Linked DNA regions of Homo sapiens: regions 2 and 3 are each linked to region 1. The links come from fine-mapping of genetic effects on gene expression. A gene starts in region 1. Each other region holds a variant in brackets. All regions are shown on one strand. Distances are from middle to middle.

Region 1 (7,579 bases):
GGTAGAGACGCGGCCTCCCTGTGTTGCCCAGCCTGGCCTTGATCTCCTGGGCTCAAGTGATCTTCTTACCTTGGTCTCTTAAAGTGTTGGGATTATAGGCGAGAGCCACTATACCCAGCCGAGGATTTGTATCTCATCTCTCCCTGCCACTGACTGGGCAAGGTGCTTTCTCTTTCTAAGCATCCATTTCTGTCTCTGTAAAGATTAGCTAAGATATGCGGTCTTCCTGCTCAGTTACGTTGGAATCTTAAATTCCCTTTACCACATCTCTACCCTACCTTCCTACCTGTCAGCACTGTTAATTCTGGTCGTTGGTCCTTTCCTTTTTATTATTATTATTATTTTTTTTTGAGATGGAGTTTTCGCTCTTGTTGCCCAGGCTGGAGTGCAATGGCACGATCTTGGCTCACTGCAACACTCTCTTCAAGTGATTCTCCTGCCTCAGCCTCCCAAGTAGCTGGGATTACAGGCGCATCCCGCCACACCCGGCTAATTTTTTTGTATTTTTAGTAGAGATGGAGTTTCACCATGTTGGCCAGGCTGGTCTTGAACTCCTGACCTCAGGTGATCCTCCCACCTCGGCCTCCCAAAGTGCTGGGATTACAGGCGTGAGCCACTGCGCCCGGCCGGTCCTTTCATTAAGCTGGATCTGTCTTCCATTACTGCTGCCCATTGTTTCTTAGTTCTGCTCATTGAGGTCACTTTTAGAAGTCTGTTTATTTTATTTTTTTACTTTTACTTTAATTTTTAAAAATCTTAAGCCTGCTTGGGAGGTCGAGGCAGGTGGATCACCTGAGGTCAGCAGTTCGAGACTAACCTGACCAACATGGAGAAACCCCGTCTCTACTAAAAATACAGAAATTAGCCGGGTGTGGTGGCGCATACCTATAATCCCAGCTACTTGGGAGGCTGAGGCGGGAGAATTGCTTGAACCCTGGAGGTGGAGCTCACCCTGCGGTGAGCTGAGATTGTGCCATTGCATTTCAGCCTGGGCAATAAGAGTGAAACTGTGTCTCAAAAAAAAACAAAAAACAAAAAACAACAACAACAAAAACTTAAGCCTAGTGACCTCAAAGTATTTTCCTATTCAGTTAAAATACTCTGATCTCTAACCATGCCCTTAGGACTTGAAGCAAGTTCTGACAACAAGGGAGATTTTAGCTTAGTCCTTGTGTATTTTATGATGGGAGTGACCTGGAATTCAGAAATTGATTGGCGTGTATTTGTAGATTGTTCATTCTTGTTGCTGTATGGTGTGTTTTGTGTAAGTATATCACAACGTATTCATCCATTCCATCGACAGTGCATTTGGGCAGTTTTCACTTTGGTCTGTTAGGAATAGTGCTGCTGGCCGGGCATGGTGGCTCACGCCTGTAATCCCAGCACTCTGGGAGGCCGAGGCGGGCGGATCACGAGGTCGGGAGATCGAGACCATCCTGGTTAACACGGTGAAACCCCGTGTCTACTAAAAATACAAAAAAATTAGCCAGGTGTGGTGGCGGGTGCCTGTAGTCCCAGCTACTTGGGAGGTTGAGGCAGGAGAATGGTGTGAACCGGGGAGGTAGAACTTGCAGTGAGCCGAGATTGTGCCACTGCACTCCAGCCTGGGCAACAGAACAAGACTCCGTCTCAAAAAAAAAAAAAAAAGTAATAGTGCTGCTATGTTTTTTTAGTGAACACATGTACATATTTCTACTGGGTATATGATACCTAAGAGTGGCATGGCAGAGTCACAGGTTATGTGACTATTTAGTAGTAGTTGCAGATGATGCCAGATAATTATCTAAAGTGATTGACCAACTTACACTCCTGTCTCAGTATGAGAGTTCAGTTGCTCCATATATCTTTGCCAACACTTGGAATTGATGACTTGTAAAAATTTTAGTCATTCTGGCTGGGGGCAGTGGCTCACACCTGTAATCGTAGCACTTTGGGAGGTCGAGGTGGGCGGATCACCTGAGGTTAGGAGTTCGAGACCAGCCTGGCCAACATAGTGAGACCCCATCTCTACAAAATCACAAAAAGTTAGCCAGGTGTGGTGGCACGCACTTGTAATTCCAGCTACTCAGGAGGCCGAAGCAGGAGAATCACCTGAACCCAGGATGCAGAAGTTGCAGTGAGCTGAGATCGCACCACTGCGCTCCAGCCTGGGTGACAGAGTGAGACTCTGCCTTAAAAAATAATAATCTAGCCATTCTGCTATGTGTGTAGTGTTAGCTCAGTTTTTTTTGTTTTTTTGTTTTTTTTTTTTGGAGACGGAGTTTCGCTCTGTCACCCAGGTTGGAGTGCAGTGGCGCGATCTCGGCTCACTGCAAGCTCCGCCTCCCGGGTTCACGCCATTCTCCTGCCTCAGCCTCCCGAGTAGCTGGGACTACAGGCGCCCGCCACCACGCCTGGCTAATTTTTTGTATTTTTAGTAGAGACGGGGTTTCACCGTGTTAGCCAGGATGATCTCGATCTCGATCTCCTGACCTTGTGATCTGCCCACCTCAGCCTCCCAAAGTGCTGGGATTACAGGCGTGAGCCAACACGCCCGGCAGCTCAGTTTTTAAGTAGCAAAATATACAGCTAATGCCAAGAGCTCAGCTTCCCTCCCAGTTGGTGATGGTGAAGTAGGCAGGATTTATTGGGATTCCTGGGTGGTCTCTGGCCTGCCCTGGGTGTTTTCCAGATCAGTGGGTTGGAGGGCTGGGCTCTGGGCCTAAAGCTTTCCTGGGAAAGCTGATTGGGCTGGGCTGAGTGGTATCCTCAGCCCCTAGGGCTCAGCAGGCATCTTGTGTATTCACCCTCTAATTTGGGTTTCTCCAGGGAACAGGCACGGTCTCCTGGTACCCAACAATACCACCGACCAGGAGCTGCAACACATTCGCAACAGCCTCCCAGACACAGTGCAGATTAGGCGGGTGGAGGAGCGGCTCTCAGCCTTGGGCAATGTCACCACCTGCAATGACTACGTGGCCTTGGTCCACCCAGACTTGGACAGGGTGAGGCAGCCCAACTTGACCCAAGAGTCACAGGGCCATCCTAGTCAGTGGTTAGCCACTGTTCTTTCCCAACAGGCAGCAATTAGGGGTCTCTCCTGTGGTTTTTCTATATGGGCTCTTGAGTTTCAGGTACTCATTGGAATAGTGATAACAGAGGCCTTATCAAGTGTCAGAAAGAAGCTGGGGAGGGTATGAATCCTTCATGATTGGGGAGATTGAACCATCCAGTCCTGCATCCTGGGCCAGGATAGGTGATTGACTGTTGAACTTTTGACTGTGGGTGAGAGGGGAAAGAAGTGATATTGAGACCAGCCTCCAGCTGTTCAGGGCATGCATGAATATTAGGGGCTTCACAGCTGCCCTTGACTCTGCTCTAAGCTGTACTTCCTCCTTTCTCTGGGTGAGGCTTTCATATGAGGTACAGAGGAGAAATGAGGGGCTCAGGGAGCCAAGGCCTGGATGCTTCTGGGCATGGAGAACCTTGGTTCTGGGGCTGTAAGTTCTGAGCCCTGAACACAATATCTTTGATTGACAGGAGACAGAAGAAATTCTGGCAGATGTGCTCAAGGTGGAAGTCTTCAGACAGACAGTGGCCGACCAGGTGCTAGTAGGAAGCTACTGTGTCTTCAGCAATCAGGGAGGGCTGGTGCATCCCAAGACTTCAATTGAAGACCAGGATGAGCTGTCCTCTCTTCTTCAAGTCCCCCTTGTGGTAAGCATTCCTGTCCTCTGAACCCCGTCTCCCGAGGCAGATCCTTTTGCCTAGTGTTTGGGAGTCTGGGTCATTACCTGCCACAGTTTGGGACTGGGGCTGCAGGTCAGGGAGGAGCAGGGTTTGGGGAGAGTCTTCATTGAGGAGGGAGAGAATTTGGTGCCGTGACTCACATTGAGCCCATCCCTTGGCAGGCGGGGACTGTGAACCGAGGCAGTGAGGTGATTGCTGCTGGGATGGTGGTGAATGACTGGTGTGCCTTCTGTGGCCTGGACACAACCAGCACAGAGCTGTCAGTGGTGGAGAGTGTCTTCAAGCTGAATGAAGCCCAGCCTAGCACCATTGCCACCAGCATGCGGGATTCCCTCATTGACAGGTACCTGGGGCCTCTCCTTTCTTCTGCTCAGGGTTGGGGGTTAACTTGCATTTTGAGAGTATGGGGAAAAGATGTCATCTAGAATGGGAGCCTACCAGTTTGTTCTGGTAGCTTCTCGAGTGTGAGAGCATATCTGTACACTGCTGAGCAGATAAGAGCCAGCATATTCAAAAAATATTTCTTGAGCATCTGCTAATCCTCATCTTTGTGGTTTTTCAGGGCTAGGATACTAGAGCAGTAGCTGCTTGAGCAGCTTGTCAGAGCTGGTCCCGGGATGAGGGCTGAGGCAGGCACCTCACTTGAGAGTGAGGTGGGCTCTGTGAAACAGCTACTGACCGTGCGCTTTCCTTTCTCTTCAGCCTCACCTGAGTCACCTTCCAAGTTGTTCCATGGGCTCCTGGCTCTGGACTGTGGCCAACCTTCTCCACATTCCGCCCAATCTGTACCGGATGCTGGCAGGGAGGTGGCAGAGAGCTCACTGGGACTGAGGGGCTGGGCACCCAACCCTTTTCCACCTGTGCTTATCGCCTGGATCTATCATTACTGCAAAAACCTGCTCTGTTGTGCTGGCTGGCAGGCCCTGTGGCTGCTGGCTGAGGGTTCTGCTGTCCTGTGCCACCCCATTAAAGTGCAGTTCCCTCCGGGCCATTCTGAATGTGATGTTTGGGGCCCTCAGCCTGTGTACAATCCCTGCACTCTCCAGTTGTTCCAGCATTCTGGGAAGATAGGGTGGGATGAACACAACACACACCCAACCCAGTTCACCACCTCCACACACGCCATTCCCTTCTCCTCTACCATCAGGATGTGAGGCTTCATCCTGGGGCAAGAAACACTCTCCACTACAGTTCTCCTTTTTTCTTTTTTCTTTTTGAGGCAGTGTCTCCCTCTGTCACCCAGGCTGGAGTGTTGTGACGCAAGGATGGCTCACTGTAGCCTTGACCTGTTGGGCTCAAGCGATCCTCTCGCCTCGTTTATTTTTTTGTAGAAACGAAGTCACTGTGTTGCCCAGGCTGGTTTATACTCCTGAACTCAAGCGACCCACCGCCTCGGCCTCCCAAAGTGTTGGGATTACAGGCGTGAGCCACGGCGCCCGGTCTAGTTCTCACAGTTTTCACCCGACTTCTGCGCCGGTCTTCTCTGGCCTTGAAAGGCAGAGAGTCCGTTCCGATTTTCCCCTGAGCTGGGCAAGTCCCCTGTGAGAGCTCTGGGGCATCTGGCTTCGGGGCATTCTTTGACTAAGGTGGATGGAGGTTGCAGGTCTTTTCCTGGGTGGGCGTGGGGCGGGGCAGCGGGTTCCCAGCGTCCTCCTGGCCTGGGCGTCTTGGAGGCTGTTGGGGTGCATTCCGTCCCCTTGCGCGGGGCGGGGCCTTGAGGCGCTGGGGCGGGATTGGCGGGGGACGGTCGCGGAGCCCCGCCCCGAAGCACAGGGTCGAGTCCCTTCTTTCCGCTCCAACGCACGGAGGGTGAGGTCGGTACGCGGTGGTGGCGTCACGGCGCCAGCTCCTCCCGACGCCGAGGTGGGTTCCGGGAGACCCGCGGGTCTGGCTGCGAGAGGTGAGGGCAGAGCCGGGGCGGGGCCCTAGCGGGGTGTCCCGGCGACCCAGACCTTAAAGGGCTTCTCTTCTTGCAGACCATGGGGGCTCAGCTAAGCGGCGGCCGCGGCGCCCCGGAGCCTGCGCAAACCCAGCCCCAGCCCCAGCCCCAGCCTGCGGCGCCGGAGGGCCCGGAACAGCCCCGGCATCCGCCCCAGCCCCAGCCCCAGCCCCAGCCCCAGCCCCAGCCCGAGCCCAGCCCGTGGGGGCCGCTGGACGACGTGCGCTTCCTCATCGCCTGCACTTCCTGGTACTGACGGCGTCCTCCGCAGGATGTCGCCCGTCTGTCCGCCGTCCCCTGTGGTTCTTGCCTGCCTTGTCTCCTCTCCCCACGTCCCTGCGTCTCTTACACCCCCTCCCACCCGAGGCTCCCCAGAGATAGCAGAGAATTCGAAGAGGTCGCCGGGGACTGGAAAGAAGTCCCGGCAGGGCCGCCTTCGCAGTCTACACCCCAGCCTGCTTCCCAGCCTACACCCAGACCCAGCTCAGACCTTCGTGACCACCCCATCCCTTTCTCCGGCTGGCTGGGTCGGGGGCATCCCTCTCTGTCGCTGGCTTCCAGAGGCAGGACAGGCCTCCTGGTAAGCCCGCAAAGTTGCTGACCTCCTGACTTCGTCTGCCTTTTATTAATATCTGTATTGCTGATAACCGTGCTCTTGACTATGTGTCCCAGGTCATGTCCCAGGTCATGGAGAAGCCCGTGCCACAGTGACCCTCCCCATACTCCTGGGGGGGCTGCTCTCCATCCTGGATCGTAAGGAGGCATCATCAGGCTGTGTTCCTGGAACCCCAATAACCCTGGGCCCCCAGGGCCAGCCTGTTGTAGAGGGAGGCTATCTGACCGCCGGTCTGGCAGAGGAGATGGGTGGGCAGCTCCCAGACACCCCAAAGGACCCGGTTCTCTTCCCAGAGCGTCCTAAGGTTACTCTTGGAACCTGATCTTTGTTCCCTCATCCCAGGGAAATGACACACTCTGTATTTCTGTTTTATTTAGAAATGATTTAAAAAACATTATACAAAGGCTGATCAGTTTAAAATGTGACTGACACTGAAATGCTGTGATGTCCCCCAGGCTGAGGGGAAGCTAGGCTCTGGGGCCCCCAGTGCTTTGCCCCTCTGTCTGCCCTGTCCTGGGGTGATGGACAAACAGATGACCACAGGCAGGAGAATCTGAGATTGGAAGCCTCTAGGCTGAGCCCTCTGGGCCTGGCCCCACATCCCTCACCTCTGCAGCCTGGGCTGCCTGCCTCCATCTCCTGTTCATTCTCAGCTGGCCTGCCAGGAGCCAATGGGGAGCCTGGCGGGAGGCGGGGGTGCCTAGAGCTTTCAAGAAGTGAGAGCACCAACCTGAGGAGTGGACAGGGACCAGGAAGTGGGGGAAGGGAGGCCAGGAAGAGGTGGATACAGGAGACACTTCTCATCTCATCTCAGACCCTAGAGGGGTCCACAGATGGGGACACAAGACCCAGCCAGCCCACTGGATGGCCCGGGCAAGTAACAACCTCTCTGTGCTTCATCTGAGGGCACGGTGAGAGTTACCGTCGGCCTCCCAGGGCCTAACACGAGTTTCATGTGAGTGGACAGGTGTGAGCTAATAAAGTGCTTTGCAAAGTATAAAACACTGTACAAACCTATGAATCACTAATATCTCCGCAGTTGTTCCCTGCCTGTCCCAGGGAGCCTGCCCTTGGCCAAAATGAGAAAAAACAAGGATGATGACAGGGGACACAGCGGACCCACATGGGCACCTCTGGGACAAGAGATTTTGCTTGAGACAGCTCCCAGGGCAGCAGGAGTCCCTGTCTGTGCTACAGGGTAAGCCGACCCCAATCCCAGAGACCACAGGGTCGGGGGCAAGGCCCATGCAGGCTCAGTGAGCAGGGGTGGCATCCGAGACCCGGCCAGCACGCTG
Region 2 (10,890 bases), 27 kb after region 1:
CATTCCAGTTCAGGAGTCGATTGCTGTGGTCCTGAGCTGCATCTGGACAGTTCCTGCTTGGTTTTCCAGAGCAGAGCAAAGTCCTGATTCTTATCCAAAGAAAACATTAGCAATCTTGGAATTTCTATCAGAATTGGCAGTCTTTCATGAAGGTTAGGGTTGGACAGATGGGAGAGGTGCTGGGATGGTGCCCATCCACAGGTCCCCGGTCCTTCCCACACATACCACCGGCTCTTGGGATTTGGGGGCTGGGTCCAACAAGTTCTGCAAAAGCAAGGAGCAGGTGTGGGAAGTGCACACCCCCAGTGCTGGGCAGAAGGGGAGGGCAGAGGAGTGGGAGTGTCTTCCCGTTGCCTCTGGACAACTCTTTGGACATTCATTTGCCTCTATCAGGAATATAACTAAAACCCTATCAGCTAACAGTGCCTGGCACATAACAGGGCCTCAAAAATATTAGTTCTCTTCTCCTCACATCTTATCTGTTAGCACAGACAGCCATTCGTTGACACCGATCCAAAAATAAGAATGAGATAAAGAACAGGTACTCAGCCAGGAATACATGCAGGACATACGGGAGAGATACCAGGGCAAAGGAAACGGAGTTCAATAGGAAAGAGGACAAAAATCTGAAGAAAGAAGAGGACAAAGAACAATTTAACAGGTTCATGACTTTGCCTAGGCTGAGCCTTGGCCAAACCACCTCCTGGTCCAGCCTTTGACAGATAACCCCAGAGCTGCCAATCCCTAATCCATGCGATGATATAAAGTGTTCTCAAGGAGGTGATCCCCAACTATAGACACCAAACATGGCCCCAACTATAGACACCAAACCAGCTTTGAGAGTCTGCTCTCAGCCTGGAGCAGCCGCAGGGCAGGAAAAAAGGATGCTCGGTGTTTCCCAAGCTTGTTTGAGCTCAAGAGTCAGGATTTCTGTGGGAAGGGCCTGGGAATCCCCGTTTATAACAAGAACCCCCATTGGTTCTTATGATCAGGCCAGGTAGGAAAACTCTAGGTATTAAGATAGCGTTTCTCATGGTGATGGAACACCTGCATCAGAAGGCCCCAGGAATGTATTAGACCACTTGCAGATTCCCAGGCCCTACCCCGGACCCAGAGAATCAGAATGACAAGAGGTTAGGGTCCTGGAATCTGCAGTCTTTTTTTTTTTTTTTTTTTTTTTTTTGAGACGGAATCTCTGTTGCCCAGGCTGGAGTGCAGTGGCATGATCTCGGCTCACTGTAACCTCCGCCTCCCGGGTTCAAGGGATTCTCCTGCCTCAGCCTCCAGAGTAGCTAGGATTACAGGCACCTGCCAACATGCCTGGCTAATTTTTGTGTTTTTCGTAGAGATGGGTTTCACCATGTTGGCCAGGCTGGTCTTGAACTCCCGACCTCAGGTGATCCACCTGCCTCGGCCTCCCAAAGTGCTGGGATTACAGGTGTGATCCACCGTGCCTGGCCTGGAATCTGAATTCTTAAAAATGGTTCCCAGGTGATTCTGCTGTGCCCTACAGTTTGAGAACCATGGAAGCTTAGCATGATGGCTGACAGCATGGGCTCCAGGGCCATAATGCCCAGATTCAAAGCCTTATTTCACCATTCACCAACTGTGGGACCTTAGGTAGGTGACTTAATGTTTCTCTATATCTCAGTTTACCTATCTGTAAAATGAAGATAGCAATATTTACCTATAATAATAATTTAACATTATATATTGCTTAATACATAAATTTAATTATGCATTATAATGTATTAATAGATATAATAGTTTCCACACATAATGGGTGGCAAGCACTTGGCACGGGCCTCAGAACACCAGCATACCCACTAATTATCATCTCTTATAATCCAAAAGCCACACTCCTCTGTCCCTCTTTCCTCCAAACTCCTACATATTTCTTTGTGCCTCTGCTACAGCCTTGGGTAGAGTCTGTCTATGACAGGGTTACTTACGTGCACACCTAACTCCCCTGCTAGACTGACTCTGGACTGCCAGGGGACAGAGATCATGCCATTTTTTTCAAACATTCAGCTCCCCCTGGTCTTTGCAAGACTTTGTATCATGTTCATTAGAGTTGGAAGGGCCCTTAGCGATCACCTAATCCAGCCCCTCACTTTGCAGACGAGGAGACCGAGGGTATCACATAGCCAGTAGTTGAACCAGGGCTTGATACCTGCATTGTCACCTTTCAGCTATGCCAGTTGAGCCCCAACTCTTCATCTTAAAAATGGGTGTAATAATGTACACTTGCCTACATACTAAGCATGTGCCTTGTGAGTAAATATTGATGATGAATTTTTTGGCAACCTGCAGGGTATCATTACTATTGCTGCACGGTATTGACTCTGCCTCCATAAATATTCATTGAACCATAGTGGTGCAGGGTAAATTATCCAAGGATGCCAGAATAATTTCAGGGCCTGCTACTCACCTGTGAGGGTGACAAAGGAGAGAGCCAGTCGTGTCATTCATAAGATGGCTTTTGGAGCCCTCATCATTCAGGCCAGAGCCTACTACTTTCAGACCCCTCTTTCAGCTTTAATGCCTTTTAACTTTTTTTTTTTTTGAGATGGAGTTTCACTCTTGTCGCCTGGGCTGGAGTACAATGGTGCGATCTCGGCTCACTGCAACCTCTGCCTTCTGGGTTCAAGCGATTCTCATGCCTCAGCCTCCTGAGTAGCTGGGATTACAGGCACCCGCCACCACGCCCAGATAATTTTTGTATTTTTAGTGGAGACAGGGTTTCACCATGTTGGCCAGGCTGGTCTTGAACTCCTGACCTCAGGTGATCCACCTGCCTTGGCCTCCCAAAGTACTGGGATTACAGGCGTGAGCCATTGTGCCTGGCCCCTTTTAAACTTTTTCTTCAGCCTCTGGTCCATTACTTTATCTTCTTACTGGCCTAACCTTACTTTTCTCCTGCCAACCGGACTATCTTCTAAGTGATCTGACTCATCTCCATGGCCCTGGCCCTGGTGGATTGAACGTTGAATATTATCAGAAATCACAGTTCCCACCCTCTTACGGTCTTAGTTCTTGGACAAGAGGCTCTAGAAAGCAGGAAACTCATCTAGGATGTCCTCCAAGTTCTTTCCCAACAACTGAGCAGCCCAAGACTGACCCCTGTCCCCTCATGGCCTTACCGTCATGGTTGGCATTTCCTAGCGTCCATGGCTCATCGGAGTCAAAGTGGGTGTCTCCTCCAATCCCTGGGCCAGGGAAGTAGGCATGGGCCAGGAATCCCCCTTCTCCATCAAATGGGGAGCTGTCGCCATGGAAACCAGAAGCAAAAAAGATCATGATGTCTGCCTCCTTCCGGTCACTTTTGATCTCATGGTATGGCACCTCTTCAAAGGTCAGTGGGGTCACCTTCTGCCACACATCGAAAGCCTGGCGAATAGCTTTCCGCGTGTCTAGCTCACCCACTTTTGGGGTATAGTTGTGAATGCTGGTGAGAGAGGGGAGGATCATTAGGCAAGATCAGAGAGTCAGAGACTAGCAGAGCTAAAATAGATACCTGAGACAATGTGGCTCAGTGATCTGATTTTGAACCCTAGAATTCTGCTTAGCTGCCTCAGGGATTGAAGAAGAGGCTGAGTAACAGAGCTCTGGATCCCCACCCTGCCTCAGTCAGATGGCTTTGCTTTACTCAGTGTTTTCCATTTGATCTCCAGCAAAGCTGTGTCGAATAAAGGATTCCACTCTAGTTTGTTGAGAAAAGTAAATTGGGGCTGGGCGCAGCGGTTCACGCCTGTAATCCCAGCACTTTGGGAGGCCGAGGCTGGCGGACCACATGAGGTCAGGAGTTCGAGACCAGCCTGACCAACATGGTGAAACCCTGTCTCTACTAAAAGTACAAAAATTAGCCAGGCGTGGTGGTGTGAGTCTGTAATCCCAGCTACTCGGGAGGCTGAAGCAGGATAATTGCTTGAACCCGGAGGCAGAGGTTGCAGTGAGCCAAGATTGCACCACTGCACTCCAGCCTGGGTAACAAGAGTGAGACTCTGTCTCAAAAAAAAAAAAAAAAAACCCAAAGGAAATTGGTAGATAGCATTTTCTGAATTTTAAGTTTTTTTCCCTAATACGAAATATGTTCATTTATAAAAGTTATAAAAATATTCAAATAATAGAGAGGAGTTTAAGTGAAAAGTCTCTTTAAAAAATCTTTGGTACCAATCTTTGGCTTGTCTGCCTAGAAGCTGGCCGGTATCTGATTTAATCCATTATAGGTTTAGCTGTTTAGCGTCGCTGTGTTCATATTGCATTGGTTCTTCACAAAACAACGTTACTACCTGTGGGTTCCCTGCCCTGTGACCCTCTGGGGCATGGATTATTCTACCTACTCCACACGTAAGGAAACTGAAGCCCAGAGAAGTCTAGTGATAGAAGTTACTCAGAGTTGGGTTAGAACCCAGTGCTTCTTTCTCTTGATCCACTCTACCCCTTCAAGAGACCCAAGAGTCTATTCAGTTTCTAACCTAGATTCTTAAGTTTCCTTCTCTTGTCAGATTTCTGGAAAAAAAAAATCCCGTTCTGAAGGGACAGCTTATCAGCAGAAGAGCCCTTAGTTCAACCCTAACTTTCCTTCTCTTGTCAGATTTCTGAAAAAAAAAAAAAAAAAAAAAAAGTCCCGTTCTGTAGGGAGTGCTTGTCAGCAGGGGAG[C/T]CCTTAGTTCAACTCTTGAGGATCTCTGTCTTAGATCTTGCCTCTGCACCAAAGGGATCCACCTGAGATGACAGCAGAGCCTTGAGAAGTGCCAGCCAGCACCCACCCGAGCCTGCCCATGCCTGGCCCTTGCCCCAGCCCCACCTGAGCCTGCCCATGCCTGGCCCTTGCCCCAGCCCCACCTGAGCCTGCCCATGCCTGGCCCTTGCCCCAGCCCCACCTGAGCCTGCCCATGCCTGGCCCTTGCCCCAGCCCCACCTGAGCCTGCCCATGCCTGGCCCTTGCCCCAGCCCCACCTGAGCCTGCCCATGCCGGGCCCTTGCCCCAGCCCCACCTGAGCCTGCCCATGCCTGGCCCTTGCCCCAGCCCCACCTGAGCCTGCCCATGCCTGGCCCTTGCCCCAGCCCCACCTGAGCCTGTCCAGTGCCTGCCCCTTGCCCCACCCCCACCTGAGCCTGCTCAATGCCTGGCCCTTGCCCCAGCCTCACTCCGGTGCTTCAGTCTGCTGTGATGGGCTCCATCATCTAGTTCTTGGGCCACTGATCTGACTTGGAGATGGATCCTGCTCTGCCCTTGGTTCCTCCAGACAGTCAAAGATGACACTATTATGATTCAGGTCCCAGTTCTTTATACTCCTTAAGAAACAACTGGAACTCTGCGTTGGGAATCTCAGGTGAAGTCCATCAGGTGGATTTTGGGGTGGGAGGATCCAGATCAGAGGGAATGGGGTTTGGCAGGCAGTGATAAGGAGACTGAATTAAGCCATGGTTTTGTTTGTTTTGTTTTGTGGTTTTTGTTTCATTTGTTTTGTTTTGGAGACAGAGTCTCACTCTGTCACGCAGGCTGGAGTGCAGTGGCATGATATAGCTCACTGCAAGCCACGATTCTTTTTCACAGCTGAAAGTTACCAAACCATTCATACCCCACTTCCTGTAACCTAAAAACTATAGGCATCTAAACAGAAGACAACTAAGAGCCCCCAGAGGACCAAATAAACCTGAGGTTGGAGTCACAGCATCCTGTGGAAGCCACAAGGAGGACAAGGTTATGGGCTCTCAGCACCTAGTGCCAATGCCCACATGCCTGGCTCTTGGCCTATGTTGTAAGCCTGATCCCCAGGCCCCCCTACATTGTGAGCCTTTGAAACTCAGGCCAGGAAAAACAGAGTGAGGGTGGAGCCAAAGGCAGGGAGGAAGAGGGAGAGTCGAAGCACCTGTAGGTGATGTGTTTTTGCCTCCACTTCTGTCCAGTCAGGGCATAGCGCTTGTTTCTCCGCCTACGGCTTAAGTGGGGGTGATCAGGGACACCACATCGGGGTTTCTTCATCCACCTGGGCAGAGAGAGGACACACACACACGCATATGCACTGTGGTCACTGAACACTTTAGGAAGGGACTGCCTATTCCCCAGCTCCAGTCTGGAAAGCAATGTGCATCCTCAAGCTACACTCTGGGACCCTGGCTTGGATGGACCCCAACAAGAACATGATTGATTGATTCATTAATTCATGCACTCACAATCATAGATGAGGAAATAGCTGTATAAAGACTGAGAATCAGAATATATGGGCTTGATAAGCTCCAGCTCCACCACTAGTCATAGGACCCCCAGGCAAGTGGCTGAACCAATATGAACCTCAGTTTCCTCCTCTGCAACATGAGAACTCTAGTTCTTGGTCTTAGGTGGAGGTGCGTCTTCAAGGAGGAAGTACATGTGAAAATGCTCTGTAAATGCAATGAGATTACAGGATGCCCTGGTTAAAAGCCTCCAGCGACTTCCCCAAACACTGAGAATAAAATTCAAACTCTTCAGCTGGGCACGGTGGCTCACGCCTGTAATCCCAGCACTTTGGGAGGCTGAGGCGGGTGGATTATCTGAGGTCAGGAGTTCGAGACCAGCCTGGCCAACACGGTGAAACCCCATCTGTACTAAAAATACAAAAAAAAAAATTAGCCAGCTGCAGTGGTTCACACTTGTAATCCCAGCTACTCAGCAGGCCGAGGCAGGGGACTTGCTTGAACCCGTGAGGCGGAGGTTGCAGTGAACCAAGATTGTGCCATTGTGCTCCAGCCTGGGCAAGAAGAGTGAAATGCCGTTTCAGGAAAAAAAAAAAAAAAAGAAGTGGCTTAACAACTGTGGGATGTGGAACATAATTCTCTGCAGCACTTATTATATTGTGTTGTGATTTAAAATTTATTGGTTTATTTCCTCTAATAAATGGTAAATTGAGGACAGGAACTATGTCCTATTCATCATTGTATCCTCAAAAGAAGGTAGCCCAGTGCCTGAAATTACGTAAATCCTGATATCTGTTTGTTACCAGGTGATATGTTTTGATTTGTGTCTCTGTTGGAGGCGGGGCCTGGTGGGAGGTGATTGGGCCATGCAGGCAGACTTCCCCCTTGCTGTTCTGCTGATAGTGAGTGAGTTCTCATGAGATCTGGTTGTTTAATGGTGTGGAGCACCTCCCCCTTCTCACTCTTCCCCCTGCTCCTGCCATATGATGATGTGCTTGTTTCCCCTTTGCCTTCTACTACGATTGAAAGTTTCCTGAGGCGTCCCCAGCCATGCTTCCTGTAAAGCCTGTGGAACCCTGAGCCAACTAAACCTCTTTTCTTTATAAATTACCCAGTTTCAGGTATTTCTCTTTCTTTCTTTCTTTTTTTTTTTTTGAGACAGAGTCTCGCTCTGTTGCCCAGGCTGGAGTGTAGTGGTGCCATCTCAGCTCACTGCAACCTCTGCCTCCCAAGTTCAAGCAATTCTCCTGCCTCAACCTCCTGAGTAGTAGCTGGGATTACAGGCGCGCACCACCACGCTTGGCTAATTTTTGTACTTTTAGTACAGACAGGGTTTCACTATGTTGGCCAAGCTGGTCTTGAACTCCTAGCCTCAGGTGATCTGCCCACCTTGGCCTCCCAAAGTGCTGGGACTACAGACATGAGCCACTGCGCCCAGCACATTCTTTTAAAATGTTTAATTCTTGGCCAGGTGCAGTAGCTAACACCTATAATCCTAGCACTTTGGGAAGCTGAGGCAGGAGATTGCTTGAGCCTAGAAGATTGTGACCAGCCTGGGCAACATGGCAAAACCCTATCTCTACTAAAGATACAAAAAATTAGCCAGGCATGGTGGCATGTGCCTGTAGTCCCAGCTACTAGGGAGGCTGAGGTGGGAGGATCACCTGAGCTTGGAAAGTTGAGGCTACAGTGAGCCAAGATCACACCAGTACACTTGGGTGAGGGGAGTCAGACCTTGTCTCAATAAATAGATAAATAAATAAATAAAATAAAAAAGTTTGATTCTCAAAACAACACTGTGAGGTAACAGAAATTATTATTCCCGGGCCAGGCACGGTGGCTCACACCTGTAATCCCAGCACTTTGGGAGGCCGAGGCGGGCGGATCACGAGGTCAGGAGATCGAGACCATCCTGGCTAACATGGTGAAACCCCGTCTGTACTAAAAAATAAAAAAAAAAAATTAGCCGGGCGTGGTGGCGGGCCCCTGTAGTCCCAGCTACTTGGGAGGCTGAGGCAGGAGAATGGCTTGAACCCAGGAGGTGGAGCTTGCAGTGAGCCGAGATCCCGCCACTGCACTCCAACCTGGGCGACAGAGCGAGACTCCGTCTCAAAAAAAAAAAAAAGAAATTATTATTCCCATTTCACAGATGAGGGAAACAATCCACAGATAAATCCAGTACCTTGCAAAACACAGAAATCAGCAAGGCAGGACTGGAACTTAGTTGAATGAAAAAATGAACTATTCATTAATGCAATTTAACAAAGCCTGGAGCTTTTATTTTTTCCTGTCAGTGCTTAGCACAAAGCTGAGCTAGAGGAACTATGTTGTTGACCAAATGAATGAGTGAATGAATAAATGTGTGACATTTCCCAAGGCGACACTCAAACATAGGACTTTAAATGGCTAATCTAGCTTCCTTTAATTAACAGTCCCTGGGAAGGGAACCAAGAACCACCTCTGACTGAGTTAGACCCAAAGGCACCTAGGGGAGGAAACAGGCTCAGAGAAAGGCAGCCATTGCCCAAGGTCACAGAGCTGGAGCTGCATCTTGGGGCTCTAAATTCTACCCTGAACACTCCCCATCTCAGGTCTTGGATTAATAAGTGCAACTGGCTTCCTCCTTCCCCTGCTTCCAGACCACAACTCCCCCGCCTTCTACAAGGAGGTGTGGGCAGAACTGCAAGTGGGAAATGCCATCCTTTTCCCTCGGATCATTCCCGCTGCCTCCTCCTTTCACCATCCACCTGCCACTCTCTGAGCGCCATCCAACAGGCCTGGGGCTTTTTGGAACAGAGTAAAACCCAAGGCCAGGTGGTGCCGCAGCAGAGACACCAGTGCTTCTGCCCCAGGATGCACTGCCATGAGGCCTGTGCAAAGCCCTCAAAATAACCTCCGCTTTGAAAGGCGGCTGGGCTCTCTTTAACCAGCCCACTCTGGAGACCACGGGGCCAAGGAGTCCACTGTATTCACAACAGCACAGGAGAAGAAGTTCACACTCATAATCAGAGAATCCTAGGAATGGGAAATGTTCACACAGGATTTTAGGATCCTAAAACCCCAGACTTGCCAAGTTTTAAAAGCTTAGATGCTTAAAATAATGGAATCTAGGCTGGGCACGGTGGCTCACGCCTGTAATCCTAGCACTCTGGGAGGCCGAGGTGGGCCGATCACCTGAGGTCAGGAGTTCGAGACCAGCCTGGCCAACATGGTGAAACCCCATCTCTACTAAAAATACAAAAAAAATTAGCCAGCATGGTGGTACATGCCTGTAATCTTAGCTACTTGGGAGGCTGAGGCAGGAGAATCGCTTGAACCCTGGAGGCAGTGGTTGCAGTGAACCGAGATCACGCCACTGCCCTCCAGCCTGGGTGACAGATCGAGACTTCATCTCATCAAAAAAAAAAAAAAGGGGGGGGGAATCTAGAATTTAGAGCCATAATCCAACACCCTCCTTTGCAAATGAACACACTGAGACCCAGAGAGATGATTCTGTCCAGGAGTGACTTACGTCAAATTGATCCTTGATCCACAACTGGGTGCATTTCCTGTTCCTCCCCCCACCAACTCCCTTGGATCCTCACCCAGCCCTGCTAGCATCTTCCACCTGCCTCAGGTTCCCCTCCCTTCCCACCTCCTTAGGAAACTCACTCCTGTTCTTTTCCATGCTTTAATGATGTGAATGGCTTTTCTTAAACAACTCTCATAGCTTTCTTAAGCAAGTTTAAGGCTGTTCAACTCTCTCCTATCTTAGACAAACAAAACTTCATCCTCTAGCTGCTACCCATTTCTCCCCACCTCCCTGTCAAGCTTCTTGAATGTCTTCCCTCCACTTGCCACCTCTTCTCCTCACCTCCGCTTCTCCCCACTTCAGTCTGACTTCATCTCCACCATTCTGCTGAGGTTAACAACAAGCTCTTTGTCACTAAACCCAGCAGACAACTTTCAGCCATGCTCCTGTTGGAGGGCTCTGGAGTGGCTGGCCCCACTGACCACCCCACACCATGTGGCATCATGACATTGCATCACATCATCACGTCAGGCTTCTTGCCCTCCGGCTGCCCCTTCTCGGCTGGCTTTGTGGGGTTCCATCCCCAGCACCCTGCCCGTGAATCTTTACATTCTCCTTGAGTGATTGGGACCATCCTCATGGCTTTTTTCTACCTCCTAAGTGTTACTACCTCCTAAGTGTCTCCCCAAAACTCATTGTTTCCTTCTGAGCTCTAGACTGGTGTGGCTAGATGACTGTATTTGTCACTAAATGGTGAGCCTCTGGAGGGCCGGATGACAGGCACATGCAGGCACCCAGCACATGTTTGGTAAATGGAAAAAGTGGAGCCAACTCATTATCATTCAAGCGTTTTCTGTATTCTGTGAGACATGCACGTTGCAGGGAACTCCAGAGGGTGACCCATAGATAAATTATTCGAGCCAGAGGGGATTTAAGACCCCATCTATAACCCAACCCCTCACTGTACTGATAAGGAAACTGAGGTCCAGAAGGGTTAAGCAACTTGTCTCCAAGGTCACATGGAATGTTAATGGGAGGGCTGGACTCCCATCCCAGCACACCCCCAACTCACATCGAGATATTCTTTCCCAGGATGGCACTGCAGGAATAAAAGATAGGAAGGGAGGATGGGCATGGGGTGTACACAGGCCATGACAAATGTGAACCCAAATGTAAGTCCAGAAAGTTCAAAGGCACAA
Region 3 (10,890 bases), 69 kb after region 1:
GACACTGTTGTAATGAGGCAAGAAAAGTTAAGAACTGAACTCAAGCTGCTGAAGATCCAAGATACTGTGCTCTTTATGCTCTGCAAAACTCCCCCACCCTTGCCCCTACCCCCACCAAATTGCATTGGCCTCTCACTGCAGATGTCAGGATGCCATCCATTTGGATAGGAAGAAACTGACACATTGGCTCAACCATAGGGTAGAGTTGCTTGTTTCTTATAAAGGAAAGAAAGATTTGAGTGGTCGTAAGAATCTGCAGTACTAGGCAGCTCTTGGTGCTGGAGGGCCTTCGCCCTGAAGCCAGGCAAATTTACCCAAAAGATAAAGACATAAAAAGAAAATGCAGGAACAAGGAAGAGTGACATTCTTTATTTTTTATTTTGTTTTATTTATTTATTTATTTGAGACAGAGTTTCGCTCTTGTAGCCCAGGCTGGAGTGCAATGGTGTGATCTCGGCTCACCGCAACCCCTGCCTCCCGGGTTCAAGTGATTCTCCTGCCTCAGCCTCCCGAGTAGCTGGGATTACAGACATGCACCACCACGCCTGGCTAATTTTGTATTTTTAGTAGAGACGGGGTTTTTCCATGTTGGTCATGCTGGTCTCGAACTCCCAACCTCAAGTGATCCTCCTGCCTCGGCCTCCCAAAGTGCTGGGATTACAGGAGTGAGCCACTGCGCCCGGCCAGAGTGACATTCTTAGTAGAGATCTGAAAGGAAATATAAATGAGAGGGTGGCTGGAGAGCACAGTCCAGCTTAGGAAGTCTCCTTGACCTCTCTCCTCCTTCCTCTGAATTCCTATTTCAGCAGCTAACAGTCAATGAAAAGCAATTTACCTACATCAAATCACTTAATCCTCACCACTGTCCTGTGAAGTGGATTCTAAGGAAAGGGTGAGAGAAGTGACCTACCCCACGACACACCTAAAAAACAGCAAAACCAGGAGTAGAACCCAAGTGTCTGACACTAAATTCATGTCCTTAACCCTTGGTGCCTTTGTTCATTCATTAATTACCTCAAAAATTCTGTAAACATTACTCAGAAGCCACTCTGTGGAAGGTACTGGGGCAAGTGAGGCCGTCTTCAGGTTAAAAAAAAAAAAAAGATAAGACTTGTGCACATAAAAGGCGTGACAAATAACCACAAAACATTACACCATTCTATAGGATTTCAGAGGGGAGTGAGGTCACTCTGGCTGGGGATATCAGGGAGATCAAGGAAGGTTTCCAAAAGGAAGTAGCATTTGAGATGAGTCTATATAAACTGGTAATATTTTAAAAGCTAATAGTTTTATATGCAATATACACAGAACATTACCACACACGTGTTCAAAAGTTACAAGCAATGGAAGACTGTGTGAAGTTTTAATTGGCAGAAAATGGAGGGTAAAAGGCCGGGCGCTGTGGCTCACGCCCGTAATCCCAGCACCTTTGGGAGGCTGAGGCGGGTGGATCACTTGAGGTCAGGAGTTTGAGACCAGCCTGACCAACATGGGTGAAACCCCGTTTCTACTAAAAACACAAAAAAATTAGCCTGGCTTGGTGGCGCGTGCCTGTAATCCCAGCTACTCAGGAGGCCGAGGCAGGAGAATCTCTTGAACCCAGGAGACAGAGGTTGCAGTGAGCTGAGATGGTGCCACTGCACTTCAGCCTGGGCTACAGAGTGAGACTCCATCTCAAAAAAAAAAAAAAAAAGAAAAAGAAAATGGGAGGTAAAGGCCTGGAGGAAGGAAAAGGTCTGATTGTTCAGGATCTAGAGAAGGTCCCAGTCCAATCCCCCGACTCAGTCTCAATGTCCAGCCCCAAATGACTTGAGAGTATTTCTTACTCAGGTTTCTCCCTTAAAAGCATATTCAAACCAATGCATACAATGGGACACTATGCAGCCTTTTGTAATTTTTTTTTTTTTTTTTTGAGATGGAGTTTCGCTCTGTCGCCCAGGCTGGAGTGCAGTGGCGCGATCTCGGCTCACTGCAACCTCCACCTCCTGGGTTCAAGCAATTCTCCTGCCTCAGCCTCCCGAGTAGCTGGGATTACAGGCGCCCACCACCACGCCTAGCTAATTTTTTTGTATTTTTTTAGTAGAGGCAGGGTTTCACCGTGATAGCCAGGATGGTCTCGATCTCCTGACCTTGTGATCCACCCGCCTTGGACTCCCAAAGTGCTGGGATTACAGGCGTGAGCCACCGCGCCCGGCCCAATGCAGCCATTTTTTAAAATGAGGAAGTACTTACGAATTTATGAATAATTAGGACATTATTTCCAAAATGTAATGTTAAGTGGTAAAAAAAAGGCAAAGGTGCAGAATCCTGGATATTGTAGGCTACTATTTGTGTAATAATCGGAAAAAAGAATACATGTGTGTGCATGCACTTGCTCATTTACACATAAAATAGGGACAGATACCCAAGGAACTGATAATAGTGCTTACTTCCTGGAGGGAAGCTTAAGTGGTTTGAGGACAGGGTGGGAAGGCAATTTTTATTTTTATTTTTTAATTTTTTTTAATTATTTTATTTTATTTTTTTGAGATGGAGTCACGCTCTGTTACCCAGGCTGGAGTGCAGTGGCACAGTCTCGGCTCACCGAAACCTCTGCCTCCTGGGTTGGAGCAATTCTCTTGCCTCAGCCTCCGAAGTAGCTAGAACTACAGGCAAACACCACAAAGCCCAGCTATTTTTTATATTTTTAGTAGAGACAGTGTTTCACCATGTTGGGCAGGCTGGTCTCGAACTCCTGGCCTCATGTGATCCGCCTGCCTTGGCCTCCCAAAAGTGCTGGGATTACAGGTGGGAGCCACCATGCCTGGCTGGAAGGAGATTTTTCTCACTGTATACCTTTTTGTATCTTTTGACTTTTTAATCATGTGGATATATTATCTCTTCAAAAAATAAGTACAAGCTGAGCATTTTTTCCCTTTAATATTGTATGTTCTCCAAATGAACAAGCTGAGCTTCTAAAAAAATAAGTGTAATAGTCTCTAAAGGCCACTCCCTGAAAAGAGGGCTTATATTGCAAAATACTGGTATACAGTGAAAGCAGTAACAGTTCACTTAGGTTTCAAAAATTCAGGCCTTCATCTGCATGGCCAAAAAAAAAGCAGAAATAAAGCAACAAACTATAAACTAGGTAAAATATTTATTATTATTTTTTTAACGTAAAACAGCTGTTATAAACCAATAAGAAAAAGACCTATGACCCAATTCAATAATGGCGAAGGACTAAATGGGCTTCATGCAAACAGAAATATAAATGGACTCTTTTTTTTTTTTGAGACAGTCTCGCTCCGTTACCCAGGATGGAGTGCAGTGGCACGATCTTAACTCACTGCAACCTCTGCTTCCTTGGTTCAAGCGATTCTCATGTCTCAGCCTCCCAAGTAGCTGGGACTACAGGCACATGCCACCATACCTGACTAATTTTTTTGTGTTTTTTGTAGAGACGCGGTTTTGCCGTGTTGGCCAGGCTGATCTGGAACTCTTGGCCTCAAGTGATCCATCTGCCTCGGCCTCCCAAAGTGCTGGGATTATGGGCGTGAGCCACTGTGCCTGGCCTGAACAGACTCCTATAATAATTTTTTAAATGACCAACCATGTTTGTAATTAAAGAAAGGCAAATTAAGACAATCAGCCACTGCTTTCTTAACATTATCAGACTGCAAATACCAAAAGGTTGGATACTACAGAGTGTTAAAGAGGGCATGATAAAACAGATACTCCTCCATACTGTTGGAAGAGATACAAATTGGTTTACTCTCTTCAGGTCACCAACTGGCAATGCCTATCAACCTTGAAAATGAGCATACCTTTGACCCATCAATTCTAATTCTGAGAATTTATCCTAGATAGATATCCTTGCATAGGTGCAAACACAAAATTATTTGTAGCAAATTATTCAATTGCCTCATTCTTTGTAATTACAAAACACCAAAATCAACCTAAGTACTTTCCAGTTGGGGAAATTGCTACATCTAAACTGAGGAATACACTGGGAAGAAGTTGAAAATGGTGTGGCTGTGTATTACTGTTACGACAAGACCTTGATTTAGCCCCTTCATTATCTCTTACTTGGACCGCAGTAATAACTTCCCAGCAGGTCTCCCTGCCTTCATCTTGCCCTCTTGCAGGACCTGCTACGTAATTTGCAGGGCCCAGTGCAAAAATGAAAATGCAAGTCTCCTTGTTAAAAAAAAAATAAGAATTTCAAAATGATGACAGCAGAACATTAAAACAAGCGTGAGGGCCCTTCTAAGAGGGGGGCCCTGTGTGACTACAGAGGTCACAAGTCCATGAAGCAGGTCTTGCCCCTTGAGTGTCACTTGGACACTGGCTGCCCATGTGACATGCTGCATCCTCTGCCTGGAACATCCTTCCACTGCCATCTCTTTTTCTCTATGATGTACTACACGCCTGCCAATAAATAACTCTAATGTGACCTCCTTTGGGAAGTTTTCCCAAAGTCTTAAAAAGTTCTTACTCAAAGTCTTACAAAGTTCTTACTCAAATCACTCTTTCTTCAGTACTCCCCTAGCTCTTGCACATAGTTTTATTAACTCTTTATCACAGTGTTTGTTTTTTTTTTTCTTGAGACAGAGTTTCACTCTTGTAACCCAGGCTGGAGTGCAGTGGCATGATCTTGGCTCACTACAACCTCTGCCTCCTAGGTTCAAGCAATTCTCCTGCTCTCAGTCTCCCAAGTAGCTGGGATTACAGTTGTGAGCCACCACACCCAGCTAATTTTTTTATATTTTTAGTAGAGATGGTGTTTCACCATGTTGGCCAGGCTGGTCTCAAACTCCTGATCTCGGGTGATCCTCCTGCCTCAGCCTTCCAAAGTGCTGATATTACAGGCGTGAGCCACCACGCCCAGCCGATCACAGTGTTTTTATAATTATTTCTTTAAAAGTTTCTCTCCTAGAGTTTCTGCAGGACTTGGCCTATGGATTGTGCTTTGTTTGTTTTTTGGGTAACTCTGGCACCTCATACATTACCTAGCACATGGGAGTTGAGAGAATGAATCAGCTGGAGTGGATGTATTTGGATGGGTGTGTTAAAAAATCAGCCATATATTGCTTCACAGTTACACCTCATCTTCAGGTTGTTAAATCTGACTGGACTCTTAATTT[A/C]ATAGAGGCCAGCAGGTCCTGATGACTGGTTCTTCATTCCAGGAGCCATAGAATAGTATCAGACAGTCCCTTGAAGGGGTGGGAGGTACCTGGACCTGAAAATTTTGGAGGCTCCCGCAAGCCATTTACACCTATCTCTGAATCTCCTTATACCTTTCACGCTTTTAAAATGGAGGTGCAATCTCATTAGGGCCCACTGGCCCCATCAATCAGTGCCAGGTTCCAGGAACCCAGTAGTTTCAGATTGCCCCCAGTCCTTTGCAACACTGGTTTTCAAATGGGGTATGCAATAGCCGTAAAGTAAATGAAGGCTTGGTAAGCGGTACTCATGCATGGATATATTTAAGGAAATTCATTTCCAGATCCTCAACTTCCAGATGTACTCCACCTGAGAAAGTTCCTGGGGTTGAGGCTCCAAGCCGACTTTTTCTTCATAATTGTAGTTCTGCTAGTCTTCATAAGAAAGGCCAGGCATGGTGGCTCACGCCTGTAATCCCAGCACTTTGGGAGGCAGAGGTGAGTGGATCACCTGAGGTCAGGACTTCAAGACCAGCCTGGCCAACATGGTGAAACCCTGTCTCTACTAAAAATACAAAAATTAGTCAGGCACAGTGGCACGTGCCAGTAATCGCAGCTACTGGGGAGGCTGAGGCAGGAGAATCGCTTGAACCCTGGAGGTGGAGGTTGCAGTGAGCCGAGATCACACCATTGCTCTCTAGCCTGGGCAAGAGTGAGACTCCATCTCAGAGAAAAAAAAAAAAATGGAAAAAAGAAAAGAAAGAAAGGCATATATCTGACCCACCCTGAATGATACATTGCACGGGGCAATTAAAAAAAAGTTCAGAACTGGGGACAGTTAAAAATACAAGATTCAGAAAATAGCCTTCTATTATCTTTTAAAAATATGTCTATATTTTTGTTTGTTTGTTTTGAGACAGGGTCTCGCTCTGTTGCCCAGGCTGGAGTGCAGTGGCGCAACCGTAGCTTACTGCAGCCTCAATCTCCTGAGTTCAAGTGATCCTCCCGCCTCAGCCTCCCAAGTAGCTGAGACTACAGGCGTGTGCCACCACACCCACCTAATTTTTAAAAATTTTTCATAGAGATGAGGTCATACTATATTGCCCAGGCTGGTCCTCAATTCCTAAGCTCAAACAGTTCTCCCATCTTGGCCTCCCAAAGTGTTGATATTACAGGTATGAGTCACTGCACTTGGCCTAATGTTTTTTAAAAATTTTATTTATTTATTTTCTTAGAGATAGGGTCTTGCTCTGTTGCCCAGGTAGAAGTATAGTGGCATGATTATAGCTCACTGCAGCCTTGAACTCCTGGGCTCAAGCAATTCTCCCACCTCAGCCTCCCAAATAGCTAGGACTACAGACACACACCACCACACCTGGCTAATTTTTTAATTTTTGTAGAGATGGAGTTTCTCTATGTTGCCCAGGTTGGTCTCAAACTCCTGGGGTCCAGTGATCCTCCAGACTCAGCCTCCCAAAACATTTGGATTACAGGCTTGAGCCGCTGTGCCCAGCTCACATTATTTATCAAAATTATTTTAAGTGGTATGTGAGCAAAAGACTATGAAGACCACTGGTTCAAGACCATAGGCTATGGTGGCCTTTAGGAGGTTTTCTAAGAGGTAGTGGCCTAGTCTTCTCCACCTCTAGTCCTCTGAAACTGAATCTGTTTCACTAGGCAGACCAAAAAAATCATCGTAGACCAAGAAAGTCATTGCACTTGATTTCTTTGTAATTACCACCATGGTTGACCAGTCTTCTTTTTGAAATACACTTCCCCTGACTTTGGCATCATTGCACATTCCTGATTTTCCCCTCCTTGGCCCCTTGTCCTAAGTTTTTGCTAGCTCCATCTCTTCCAGTTGACCTTTTAAATTCTGGAGTTTCTCAGGGAAGTTATAAGCCTTCTACTCTTTCTATTATTTTCTAAGAAATGTCATCCATGACCACAGTTTCAAATATAATCTGTATCCCAACAACTCCCAACTTTCTATTTCTAGCATAGACCTTGCTCCCAAACTCCTGAATCTGATTGCTTATTCCACATCTATACCTTAATGTCTCGTGGGATTCCCGAACTGCAAAAAGCCAAAGCCAAGTTCATATTCTTTCCATTCATAATGTCTTCCTCCTCTAGGCTTCCCCTGCTTAGTAACAGTGCTCTATCTGCCCAGTTGTTCATGCCAGAGACCTGGAAGGCATTCTTGATGTCTCTTTAACCTCCCCCATAGCCAACCAATAATTTATTCCTATGAATTCTACTTCATGTAAGATTTCCCTAAGCCTCCAGACCAGGCTACATACCCTTATTCTATACCCTCATATAGCACCTTGTACTTCATAGTATTTATTCAAACTGTAATTAAGTAATTATTTTGTGTAATTCTGTCTCCCCCTCTACACCATAAGCTCCATGAACACAAGGACAATACCTGCTTATTTCTGGCATATAGTAGGCTCTCAATTAATATTTGTTTATTTATTTTTTGGGGATGGAGTCTTGCTGTATCACCCAGGCTGGAGTGCAGTGGTGTGATCTCGGCTCACTACAGCCTCCGCCTCCTGGATTCAAGCAATTCTCCTGCCTCAGCCTCCCGAGTAGCTGGTATTACAGGTGCGTGCCACCATGCCCGGCTAATTTTAGTATTTTTAGAGGTGGGGTTTCACCATGTTGGCCAGGCTGGTCTTGAACTCCTGGCCTCAAGTGATCCACCTGCCTCGGCCTCCCAAAGTGCTGGGATTACAGGCGTGAGCCACCACGTCCAGCTGAATATTTGCTAAATGAACAAATGTAAGCACTATTTATAGTGTCGTAGTCTTTCCAGTGTTGTGTAGTGTTCTGCTGTGTGTTTTTGTGATTTAAAACCTATTGCTATGTTCACGGTAGGGGGCAGCAGAGTACGCGGATACTGAGAGAGTCCAGTACTCAGTATTAAAAGGGCAACTTCAGATAAATGACTTAACCTTTCTGAGACTATTTCCTTCTCTGGAAGTCAGGGTTAAGTCTCCTTCCCTTGGATCAAAAGAGATAAGCAGATGTAAAAGGGCTTCACTGCAGGACAAACAGGAGACAATGTGATTAGAGTCAGTTAAGATAAATATTTGTTGAATAAACAGACACAGAGCAAGAGGATTTTGGCTATACGACTGTGGAACAGATTGCAGTAGAGAGTTGACAGATTCCGAAGAGAGAAAATGAAAGCTCCAGGAAGAGACTGGCCTATGCCCAGAGCCAGCCTGTGAAGTCAGCACAGGATGTCCTTGGCATGCTGTCATCTCTGCTCCCTGATCATTGCCCTCCACCTCTACCTCTGGCCTCTAGTTTCCCATCGCTGTGCTGCCGGCTTTTCCTTCCCTTCTCTCCCATCAAAGCACATCTGTCCTATGTCCTGGCCACTCCCAGGCCTGCTCACTGCCATCCACAGTCACTGCTAGTTAACCCAATAAATGGATTCTCACTAAAGTGCCCAGGGCAGGTAGTGTATTATTTTACCATTCTCAATAACACGAATTGGACCTTCTTGAGACGGAATAACTTACTCAAAAATTATGTTTCAAATAATAATAAAGTTTAGGTTTTGTGGAAGGAGAGGAAATGGAAGGTTAACAGAGATGAAGACAGTCCTAACTTGACCGGGCGTGGTGGCTCACACCTGTAATCCCAGCACTTTGGGAGGCCAAGGCAGGCAGATCACCTGAGGTCAGGAGTTCGAGACCAGCCTGACCAACATGGAGAAACCCCGTCTCTACTAAAAATATGAAAATTAGCCAGGTGTGGTGGTGAGCGCCTGTAGTCTCAGCTACTCGGGAGGCTGAGGCCAGAGAATCACTTGAACTTGGGAGGCAGAGGTTGCAGTGAGCCGAGATCATACCACTGTACTCCAGCCTGGGCAACAGAGTAAGACTCCATCTCAAGAAAAAAACAAAACAAAACAGTCCTAACTAATTTCAGGCTCAAGAAAGAATAATTGTACAAATACAAAATCTGTGAGATATGACTTGATAGTAATATGAGGGGAAAAAGCTTTTAAAAATATTCATATGTGTATATATATATATATATATATACACAAACATACACATAATAGATTTGCATACATATAATTTAATTGTAATTTACATTCAGTAAAATTTACATTTTGGTGTAGAGTTCTGTGAGTTTTGACAAATGCAAAGAATTATGTAAACACCACCACACACAAACAAAAAAATAAAACAGTTAATCACCTTCCCAAATTCCCTTTTGTTACCCCTTTGTAGTCAAAGCCTTCCCTACCCTTAAGCCCTGGCAACACTGATATGTTCTCTATTCCTATAGTTTTTTCTTTTCCAGACTGTCATATAAAATGGAACCATACAATATGTTGTATTTTGAATTTGGCTTCTTTCACTTGGCATAATGGATTTAAGATTCATCCATGTTGTTGAGTGTATCAGTAGTCAATTCCTTTTCATTGCTGAGTAGTAGTGTATTGTATGGATGTACCACAGTTTGTTACTCCACTTCCCAGTTGAGGAATATTTAGGTTGTTTCTAGTTTTGGCAATTATGAATAAAGCTTCTGTAAACATTCACGTACAGGTTTTGGTATGAACATAAATTTTCATTTTACTTGGGCTAATTTCTAGGAGGGATTGTTGGAGCCTATGGTAAGTGTGTGTTTAACTTTATAAGAAACCTAGAGGGGCTGTATCATTTTGTTTTCCCACCAGTAATTTATGAGAGTGGCAGTTGTTCCGCCTTCTCACCAACAATTGGTATTGTCAGGGATTTTTTTCAATTTCAATAGGTGTATAGACATACCTTACTGTGGTTTTAATTTGCAATTCCCTACCAACAAATGATGTTGAGCATATTTTCAAATATTTATTTGCCATCCATGTATCTTCTCTGGTGAGGTGCCTGTTCAAAACTTTTGCCTTTTTAAAAAATTGTTTGTTTTCTTATTTCTGAGTTTTGAGAGTTTTTTTTTTTTTTTTTTTTTTTGAGATAGAGTCTCACACTGTTGCCCAGGCTGGACTGCAGTGACGCCATCTTGGCTTACTGCAACCTCTGCCTCCCGGGTTCAAGTGATTGTCCTGCCTCATTCTCCTGAGTAGCTGGGATTACAGGTGCCTGCCACCATGCCTGGCTAATTTTTTTGTATTTTTAGTAGAGACGAGGTTTCACTATGTTGGCCAGGCTGGTCTTGAACTCCTGACCTCGTGATCCGCCTGCCTCAGCCTCCCAAAGTGCTGGGATTACAGGCATGAGGCACTGCGCCCTACTGAGGGTTCTTTATAAATTCTAGGCCAGGCACAGTGGCTCATGCCTGTAGTCCTAGTGCTTTGGGAGGCTGAGCAGGAGGATCACTTGAGGTCAGAAGTTTGAGACCAGCCTGGGCAACATACAAAAATCCTGTCTCTACCAAAAATAAAATAAAATAAAATTTTTTAAAAATGTTAAAAAATAAATTCTGGATTCAAGTCCTTTGTTAGAAATGTGATTTGCGGTCAAGTGCAGTGGCTCACACCTGTAATCCCAGCACTTTGGGAGGCCGAGGTTGGGGGGGGGATCACCGGAGGTCATACACATATATACATATATACATGTATACATATGTATATGTATACATGTATATATGTATATGTAGATATATGTATATATGTACATATATATGTGTGTATATATACATATATATATATATATATATATATATATATATATATTTAGACAGAGTTTTGTCCTTGTTGCCCAGGCTGGAGTGCAAT

What was found.
Region 2: its variant is fine-mapped to the expression of MMP24OS in lymphoblastoid cells (GEUVADIS, PIP 0.93).
Region 3: its variant is fine-mapped to the expression of MMP24OS in spleen (GTEx, PIP 0.98).

The regions. Positions count from the first base shown.
Region 1 is chr20:35,276,059-35,283,637 of GRCh38, reverse strand. MMP24OS (MMP24 opposite strand) reads left to right here and starts at 5,516. Exons shown (of 2, transcript NM_001355003.2): 1 at 5,516-5,629; 2 at 5,706-7,286. The coding sequence starts at 5,709. The coding sequence ends at 5,924. MMP24-AS1-EDEM2 (MMP24-AS1-EDEM2 readthrough) reads left to right here and starts at 5,516. Exons shown (of 15, transcript NM_001355008.2): 1 at 5,516-5,592. It overlaps MMP24 (matrix metallopeptidase 24), which reads right to left. Exons shown (of 9, transcript NM_006690.4): 9 at 6,640-7,579. EIF6 (eukaryotic translation initiation factor 6) reads left to right here. Exons shown (of 7, transcript NM_002212.4): 4 at 2,809-2,984; 5 at 3,520-3,696; 6 at 3,891-4,072; 7 at 4,432-4,720. The coding sequence ends at 4,441. RefSeq lists silencers at 5,337-5,556, 5,647-5,866 and enhancers at 5,997-6,166, 6,287-6,386, 6,973-7,579.
Region 2 is chr20:35,247,008-35,257,897 of GRCh38, reverse strand. All of the region lies in intron 2 of MMP24-AS1-EDEM2 (MMP24-AS1-EDEM2 readthrough), which reads left to right. It overlaps MMP24 (matrix metallopeptidase 24), which reads right to left. Exons shown (of 9, transcript NM_006690.4): 3 at 5,877-5,993; 4 at 3,144-3,448. Among named protein-coding and RNA genes, the nearest start is that of MMP24-AS1-EDEM2, 26 kb to the left of the region's middle. The variant C/T (reference allele first, on the strand shown) is at 4,664.
Region 3 is chr20:35,205,711-35,216,600 of GRCh38, reverse strand. The region is part of intron 4 of MMP24-AS1-EDEM2 (MMP24-AS1-EDEM2 readthrough); the gene reads left to right. It also overlaps a transcript of PROCR not described here. Among named protein-coding and RNA genes, the nearest start is that of MMP24, 16 kb to the left of the region's middle. RefSeq lists an enhancer at 42-541. The variant A/C (reference allele first, on the strand shown) is at 5,124.